2 separate regions of the Homo sapiens genome follow, and region 1 is linked to region 2. The links come from fine-mapping of genetic effects on gene expression. A gene starts in region 2. The other region holds a variant in brackets. All regions are shown on one strand. Distances are between the middles of the regions.

The links. PIP is the estimated chance that this variant, and not a neighbour inherited with it, causes the effect.
Region 1: its variant is the best candidate, but not a certain one, in a credible set for the expression of ACOX1 in whole blood (TOPMed, PIP 0.74).

Annotation. Positions count from the first base shown.
Region 1 is chr17:75,946,562-75,950,878 of GRCh38, forward strand. It overlaps ACOX1 (acyl-CoA oxidase 1), which reads right to left. Exons shown (of 14, transcript NM_004035.7): 9 at 4,213-4,317; 10 at 3,157-3,336; 11 at 2,934-3,039; 12 at 2,656-2,799; 13 at 1,690-1,896; 14 at 1-234. The coding sequence ends at 187. Among named protein-coding and RNA genes, the nearest start is that of FBF1, 7.7 kb to the left of the region's middle. The variant T/G (reference allele first, on the strand shown) is at 1,954.
Region 2 is chr17:75,976,945-75,981,329 of GRCh38, forward strand. It overlaps ACOX1 (acyl-CoA oxidase 1), which reads right to left and starts at 2,222. Exons shown (of 14, transcript NM_004035.7): 1 at 2,021-2,222; 2 at 1,590-1,749. The coding sequence starts at 2,129. It overlaps TEN1 (TEN1 subunit of CST complex), which reads left to right and starts at 2,296. Exons shown (of 4, transcript NM_001113324.3): 1 at 2,296-2,567. It overlaps TEN1-CDK3 (TEN1-CDK3 readthrough (NMD candidate)), which reads left to right and starts at 2,273. Exons shown (of 10, transcript NR_037709.1): 1 at 2,273-2,567. RefSeq lists enhancers at 1,396-1,979, 1,885-2,114, 1,980-2,563, 2,685-2,784 and a silencer at 2,195-2,264.

The DNA of each region.
Region 1 (4,317 bases), 30 kb before region 2:
ATTGCACTTAAAACATCTGCTTTTTTTCATTTAATCTCTGAAATCTGTTCATTTTTTCCCTCCATTTATAAAAAGGGGTCAATTTATCATTTGCTCTATAGCTATTTGAATTCGAAAAAGATTCCACAAAATTTGAGTTGCACACAGGCGCTTTCTGAAGCAGATTAAACTTGTCCTTGTGACACTTCAGAGCTTGGACTGCAGTGACTTCAGGTGCTTGTAAGATTCGTGGACCTGTGGGGAAAGGAGAGAGAAGAACTACTAATAAAGAGTTTGCCATGTTAAATAGTATACTGTTTTTTGTTTTTGTTTTTGTTTTTTTTTTGAGACTGAGTCCTGCTCTGTTGCTCAGGCTGGAGTGCAGTGGCACAATCTTGGCTCACTACAGCCTCTGCCTCCCAGACTCCAGCGATCTTCCCACCTTAGCCTCCCGAGTTGCTAGAACTACAGGTGTGTGCCATGACACCTGGCTGCTATTTGTATTTTTTTGTAGAGATGGGGGTTTACCATGTTGGCCAGGCTGGTCTAGAACTCCTCAATTCAAGTGATCCACCCACCTCAGCCTCCCAAAGTGCTAGGATTACAGGCGTGAGCCACTGTGCCCAGCCTGTGGTTGTTTCTGAAGAGTCCTTATCTTTTAGAGCTATGCATTGAATTATTTATGGATAAAATTATCTGATGTCTTAGTTTTTTTTTTTTTTTTGAAACGGAGCCTCGCTCTTGTTGCCCAGGCTGGAGTGCAATGGCATGGTCTCGGCTCACCGCAACCTCCGCCTCCCAGGCTCAAGCAATTCTCCTGTCTCAGCCTCCCAAGTAGCTGGGATTACAGGCATGCGCCACCACGCCTGGCTAATTTTGTATTTTTAGTAGAAACAAGGTTTCTCCATGTTGGTCAGGCTGGTCTCAAACTCCCGACCTCAGGTGATCCACCTGCCTCGGCCTCCCAGGTGTGCATCACTGAGCCTGGCCCTGATGTCTTAGATTTATTTCAAAATAGTCCCCAGGAGGAGGGGGATGAAGGTTCAGATGAAACACAACTAGCCACGAGTTGATAGTCATTGCTGCTAGACAAAGGGTGTACCAAAGAGCACTACGGAATTCTCTTTTTGTATATTTTATTCTATTTGTGTGTGTGTGTGTGTGTGTATACTTTTTTTTTTTTTTTGAGACAGAGTTTTGCTCTTGTCACCCAGGCTGGAGTGCAATGGCACGAACGTGGCTCACTGCAACCTCCGCCTCCTGGGTTCTCCTGGGTTCAAGCTGAGGCAGGAGAATTCCCGAGTAGCTGGGACTACAGCCGTGCACCATTACTGCCTGGCTGCTTTTTTTGTATTTTTAGTAGAGATTGGGTTTCGCCATTTTAGCCAGGCTAGTCTCGAACTCCTGACCTCAGGTGATCTGCCCACTCGGCCTCCCACAGTGCTGGGATTACAGGTGTGAGCCAACGCACCCGGCCTGTATATATTTTTAAATGTTCAATTCGTTATCAAAAATTGAAATTGATTAAGACCCTGGTTACTGTGGGAACAACCCAGTTCCCTTCTGAACCTGTTGCTCAAATAAAGTGACTGTCAGAAGTGGCCATGGTACTTTCAGAGCTTTCACAGATAAATCCCCTTCGAGAGGCCTTTCCTGCTTCAATATTTAAGTGAAGACTTTTAAAAAGGTGCAGAGACACTGGATTTTTACCTCTGCTTTGTTCAGTGGGGAGTTCTTAGCCCACTCAAACAAGTTTTCATACACATTCCCATCATAGCGGCCAAGCACAGAGCCAAGTGTCACATCCTGAAAATCAAATGCATCAACCAAAGCAACAGCATCTGAGCGAATCAGAGTGAGTAACTCCTTTACACGCTGGTTTACTTGTGTAATCTGAGGCTCTGTCATGATGCTCCCCTAAAAGAGACCAAAATAAGTAAATAAAACATATATATGTATATAGATAGACATAAT[T/G]ATATGCATATACAGCTATAAAGCGGATGACAATTATTTTTTTCTTTTTTTTTTTTTGAGACTGAGTTTCACTCTTGTTGCCCAGGCTGGAGTACAATGGTGTGATCTTGGCTCACCGCAATCTCCGCCTCCCAGGTTCAAGCAATTCTCCTCCCTTGGCCTCCCAAATAGCTGGAATTACAGGCATGCGCCAGCACACCTGGCTAATTTTGTATTTTTAGTAGAGATGGGGTTTCTCCATGTTGGTCAGGCTGGTCTCGAACTCCCGACCTCAGGTGATCTGCCCGCCTTGGCCAAAGTGTTGGGATTACAGGCATGAGCCACTGTGCCTGGCTATTTTTCTTTTTCTTTTTTTTTTTTTTTGAGACAGAGTATTGCTCTGTCACCCAGGCTGGAATGCAGTGGTTTCATCTTGGCTCACTGCAACCTCTGCCTCCAGGGTTCAAATGATTCTCGTGCCTCAGCCTCCCTAGTAGCTGGGATTACAGGCATGTGCCACTGCACCTGGCTAATTTTTGTATTTTTAGTAGAGACAGGGTTTCACCAGGCCAGGCTGGTCTTGAACTCCTGACCTCAAGTGATCACCGTACCCGCCTTGGGCTCCCAAAGTGCTGGGATTACAGGCATGAGCCACCGTGCCCAGCCAACAATTATTTTTCTTAAAACAACAACAAAAAAGACTTATACTTAGAAAATACTGACCTGAAGGAAATCCCCCGCGTTCTGACTGATTCCATACAGAGAATACAGCAGACATAAACTCCTTAAGACAGCTTGAATGGCTTTATCTTGAATTTTGAGGAGTTTTTCTGAAAAGAGCTTAACTACCACATAGTGGCAATGTGCCTAAGATTAAAAAGAAAACACCAGAGTTTGAGAACCTTGGAAAAAGATTCAATATACAGTGACTAGGGTTTCTGTACCAGAAAATGCGGGATGCTGAGGGCAGGGAAGGGGAAAAAGAGAGAACTACCACTGACCTCACTTGCTCGAACAAGGTCAACAGAAGTTAGGTTCCAAGCTACCTCCTTGCTTTTTCTGTGAATCACTTCTTTTTGAAGGTTTTTTGCAGCAATTTCTACTAATCTGTTAAGACATAGATTGGAGGTCTGAGGAAATGATCAACAGTACTCATGCCTTCTTGCCATCTGTCAGGGCCCCAGCCCCACTGCTGCGTATTCTAGCTCTTGAGGGAGAGCTCACCTGGCTGCACGGAGTTTATATGCTTCGGTTAGGCTTTCGGGGCTGTTGATATCCACCATGGTTGGCCAGACTGCTACCTGCTGTGGCTGGATGCGCTGACTGGGCAGGTCGTTCAAATAGGACACCATGCCACACACCAACTTTCCTGAGTGCACCTGATCATAACTTTTCATCAGGAACCTAAAAGTCACCAGTAAACATGCTTTTAGTAACTCTACTTTCTTTTGTTTCTTTTGAGATGGAGTTTCATTCTTGTTGCCTAGGCTGGATGGAGTGCAATGGCCAGATCTCAGCTCACTGCAACCTCCTCCTCTTGGGTTCAAATGAATGATTCTCCTGCCTCAGCCTCCCAAGTAGCTGGGACTACAGGCACCTGCCACCATTCCTGGCTAATTTTTAATATTTTGTTTTTTTAGTAGAGACAGGGTTTTACCATGTTGGCCAGGCTGGTCTCTTAACTCCTGACCTCAAGTGATCTACCCGGCTTGGCGTCCCAAAGTGCTGGGATTACAGGAGTAAGCCACCACACCTGGCCTTTTTTTTTTTGATGGAGTTTTCGCTCTTGTTGCCCAGGATGGAGTGCAATAGCGCAATCTTGGCTCACTGCAACCTCCGCTTCCCAGGTTCAAGCGATTCTTCTGCCTCAGCCTCCCAAGTAGGCCGGGATTACAGGCAATGTGCCATCATGCCCGGCTAATTTTTTTGTATTTTTTTAGTAGAGACACGGTTTCACCATGTTGATCAAGCTGGTCTTGAACTCCTTACCTCATGATCTGCCCACCTCAGCTTCCCAAAGTGCTGGGATTACAGTCATGAGCCACTGTGCCCAGCCCAGTAACTCTATCCTTGATACAACTGCAAGCTATGTAACAGGTGCTTCATACTCTCTAGCCTCACCACGAAATAAAAACCGTGAGTCAGGATGGAAGGCAAAAGTATACCTTTCAGGAACAAATATATATATACGGTGAAGAAAAACCATGGGAACAAGAACCTAGGAAAAGGACTAGAACATTCTTATGAACAGATGGGAGGAATCGAGGATTTGACTCTCACCTAGCCGTCTGGAGCATCATGACAGTGTTTTCTCCCTCAAAGGTACAGCTTGGGGTGAAATTGACATAAATATTTGGAAGACCACTGCAATGAGAATAGCCATGC
Region 2 (4,385 bases):
TACTAGGATCATGTAATAGTGTTTGTTTAGGTTAAGGCAAAAAAGTCTTTTTTTTTTTTTTTTTTTTTTTTGAGACAGAGTCTCTCTTTGTTGCCCAGTCTGGAGTGCAGTGGCGTGATCTCGGCTCAGTGCAGCCTTTGCCTCCCAGGTTCAAGGGATTCTCCTGCCTCAGCCTCCTGAATAGCTGGGACCCCAGAAGCGCACCACCAGGCCCGGCTAATTTTTGTATTTTTAGTAGAGAGAGTTTCACCATTTTGGCCAGGCTGGTCTCGAGCTCCTGGCCTCAAGTGATCCACCTGCCTTGGCTTCCCAAAGTGCTGAGATTACAGGCATGAGCCACTGTGCCCGGCCCGAAGTCCTTATTTTTATTTATTTTTACCGTTCCTTGTGGAGCAGGGTGGATCACGAGGTGAGGAGTTTGAGACCAGCCTGGCAACATGGCGAAACCCCATCTCTACTAAAAATACAAAAATTAGCCGGGTGTGGTGGCGGGCGCCTGTAATCCCAGCTACTCAGGAGGCTGAAGCAGGAGAATCGCTTGAATCCGGGAGGTGGAGGCTGGAGTGAGCCGAGATCGTGCCACTGCACTGCAGCCTGGGCGACAGAGCGAGACTCCGTCTCAAAAAACAAAAACAAAAACAAAAAACACAACAAAACACATGGTCTGAAAAAAGGATATACTCTCTTCCACACTAGAACCAAGGCAGGTTTTTATGACGTCTCTCTCATATGCACAAGACAACCATTCAAGCACTGTCATGGATTCAGAACTACTGGGTTCTTAGACTTTCTATTCATTCAGAGGCGTCACAGATCATTCTTCATCCAGGTCCACACTACCATATAATATAATCTGCTATTGCTCCAAAATATTTAAATGGTCGTGCAACTAAAAAAAAAAATGCTCCCAGATTCAGAATTTTAGCAGTCCTCCTTACAAAGAGCAAAATGATTCTGCATTTAAATCAGTCAAATTTGAGTTGCTTGGGCAGAACAATGCTTTTACAACATCCTTGAAACTGTACTCTTGAGAACAAAAACTCCTGCATTTCCATTTATTATCAGCATTCTACAAACACGTCATCCCACGAAAAGGCTTGGATACAAAAGTGATCACATTATTTTTCACACATATAACTTTATTTATTTATTTATTTATTTATTTTTTGAGATGGAGTCTCGCACTCTTGCCCAGGCTGGAGTGCAGTGGCGCGATCTCGGCTCACTGCAAGCTCCGCCTCCCTAGTTCACGCTATTCTCCTGCCTCAGCCTCCCGAGTAGCTGGAACTACAGGCGCCCGCCACCACGCCCGGCTAATTTTTGTATTTTCAGTAGAGATGGGGTTTCACCGTGTTAGCCAGAATGGTCTCGATCTCCTGACTTGGTGATCCGCCCGCCTCGGCCTCCCAAAGTGCTGGGATTACAGGCGTGAGCCACCGCGCCCGGCCACACATATAACTTTATAAAGTTGCATGAAAATATGCCAGTTTGCATCTTCAAACACCAAGCACGGTGATGAAAGGCCACCATAGACCGCAGCTGTAAAGTTTAGGCTTAACAACACTTGCTCTGTTCTAAGGCATACCTACTTTTTAAACCACATAATTTCATCAGGGTCAGCGATGCCAAACTCCCTCATCTTCTTCACCATGATGGCACTTTTCCTGACAGCCACCTCATAACGCTGGCTGCGAGTGAGGAAGTTCAAGTCCTCATGCTGGAAGTCTGGGTCGTTCAGGATCATGTTCTCTGAAAGGGGGTTAAAGGGCATTAAAAGGCAGACAGACACTCGGGCCTCCGTTCCACCCTCCCTGAATCACAATAGGCTTCAGAGTCGCGGACACACCTGGGGAATGGCGATATCCCCCCACCAGGGACACAGGCTGTTCCTCGAAGTGGGGGTCCCGGCTCCCCTAACGCTGGGCCAGAGGGCCTAGGCCCCACAGCGCCCCTGACTCCGCATCGAGGGAGTCTCCAGCTTTTCTCGGGAAAGGAGGGAGGTCTCGCCCGCCGCCCTCACCGATCTCTCGGCGGCGCCGGGTTTTCTCGGGGCTGCCGTCCAGGATGTGTGTAAGCAGCTCCGGGTTGAAGCTGGCGGAATCCCGCTCCCTGCGCAGGTCCGGGTTCATGGCGACGACCAGCTGGCAGCGAAGTAAGCACCGACCGAGGTGGCAGTGACAATCTAAATCCGCAGCTCCAGCGCCGGCCGGACCCTAGGAGGCAGCCTCAGGACGGCGCAAGTCCCCGCCTCCGCTCGCCCGGCCCGCCCCGGCCCGCCCCTTCTTTCTCCGTGGCCCTTTGGCGCGTGAGTGACAGCGGCCCAGACAGAGGGGGCGATGTCCGCGTCGTGGCTGGGGCCGGTCGCGGGGCAGACTAATCCCCTGCTCCTGGCCAGGGGAGGCTCCCGAGCGGATCCTCGGGAAAGGGGCTCCGAAGGTCAAGAAACTGCCCTGCTGGGCGTCCGGGGAGTGGGAAAATAAAGCACTTTTTGTATCCCGCCCCTCCCCCGTCACGTGACCACGCGAGGCGGAAAGAAGAAATCCGAGGACCGGCGACGCCTAGAACAGGTTGGCTGGGGCCTTGGGAAGGGGGCGGGACAACGAGGCTGAGGAGGGATTGCGCCTGCACTTGCCCCCCTCTTACCCCGCGGCCTCTGTCACGCTTCCGGGTCCGTGCCCCTAGGCCTCTCCGAAATGAGAGTGGTCGGGAGACTCTGGAGTCTGGGGCGGGAGATGGGGCTTTGCGGAATTGCTAGGGAGGGTCACTTGGGCTTTTGCCAAATCCACCCGGATTGGAGAAGAATGGGACGGGAACCAGTCTCTTTGGGGAGAGGCTCCAGTTACCTTTTGTTAAGATAATGGCGTCTTTACTGGCAGAGGCGTGGGTTCCGGGGCCCTGGGTGTGGGATTGTGAGCGCTGTTCAAGGGGTGGACGGGGACTTAGAATGAGACCAAGCGGGCGGTGCTGCTCTAAGCCTTCTGTCTGGGAAACCAGACATTTTCCCCCGCAACCTGGCAGTTACTAGAGGTCTTGGAATCCAGACTTCTTTGCTTTCGCCATCACCGTCATCAAAGTGGGAAATGCACACTTACTGTTAAAACCTAGTGTAGGGCCGGGCGCGGTGGCTCACGCCTGGAATCCCAGCACTTTGGGAGGACGAGGCGGGCGTATCACTTGAGCCCAGGAGTTCAAGACCAGCCTGGGCAACATGGCAAAACCCCATCCCTACAAAAAATACCAAAAAATTAGCTGGGTGTAGTGGCATGCGCCTGTAGTCCCAGCTACTCTGAAGGCTGAGATGGGATGGTGGCTTGAGCCCCGGAGGTGGAGGTTGCGGTGAGCCAAGATTGTGACATTGCACTCCATCCTGGGCAACATAGTGAGACCCTGTCTCTACAGAAAAAAAACAAAAAACAAAAACAGTTCTGCCCAGTGGGATTGTAGACAAGGGAGATTCAGGGATTTGTTGAATCATCTCTAGTCATTTTTTTTTTTTTTCTTGAGACGGAGTCTCGCTCTGTCGCCCAGGCTGCAGTGTGGTGGTATGATCTCAGCTCATTGCAACCTCCACCCCCTGGGTTCAAGCGATTCTCCTATCTCAGCCTCCCGAGTAGCTGGGATTATAGGGGCTCGCCACCACACCCAGCTAATTGTATTTTTAGTAGAGACAGGATTTTGCCATGTTGGCCAGGCTGGTCTCGAATTCCTGACCTGTTGATCCACCTGCCTCGGCCTCCCAAAGCGCCGGGATTACAGGCGTGAGCCGCTGCGCCTAGCCTGTCTGTAGTCTGTGTAATACTATGACTTTGGTTTTCTCAGAAGTAAAACTACGAGAGATGCATAACATTCATAATTTGAATAATAGAACTATAATACACACTCTTAACCCCTAGGACCTCAGGATCCTCATTTGTCTTATTAAGCTGCTGATCTCAGGCCCCTTCAACAGCAGAGAGGGTGTCTAGTTTATTCTCTGTACCTGGCACAGTGCCTGCCCCGCTAAAGGTGCTCAGGAAATCTTTGTGGAGTGAACAAATGGCTGCTTGACAGCTGACCTTCTAGTTCTAATATTCTAGGAAACCAATTGCTCTTAATGTAACAATGATAAGGGGTGTACTTAGCATTGAATAGAAAAGACTTAGATGAAGAGCTAAATTTGCTGAGTTTTTATTTTGAAATAATTTCAAATTTACACGAGAATTACAAGAATAGAACAAAGAACTTTTCTTCTGTGACTTTAACGCTTTTTTTTTTTCTTTTGAGATGATGTCTTCCTCTGTCACCCAGGCTGGAGTGCAGTTGCATGATTTCAGCTCACTGCAACCTCCGCCTCCTGGGTTCAAATGATTCTCATGCCTCAGCCTCCAGAGTAGCTGGGACTACAG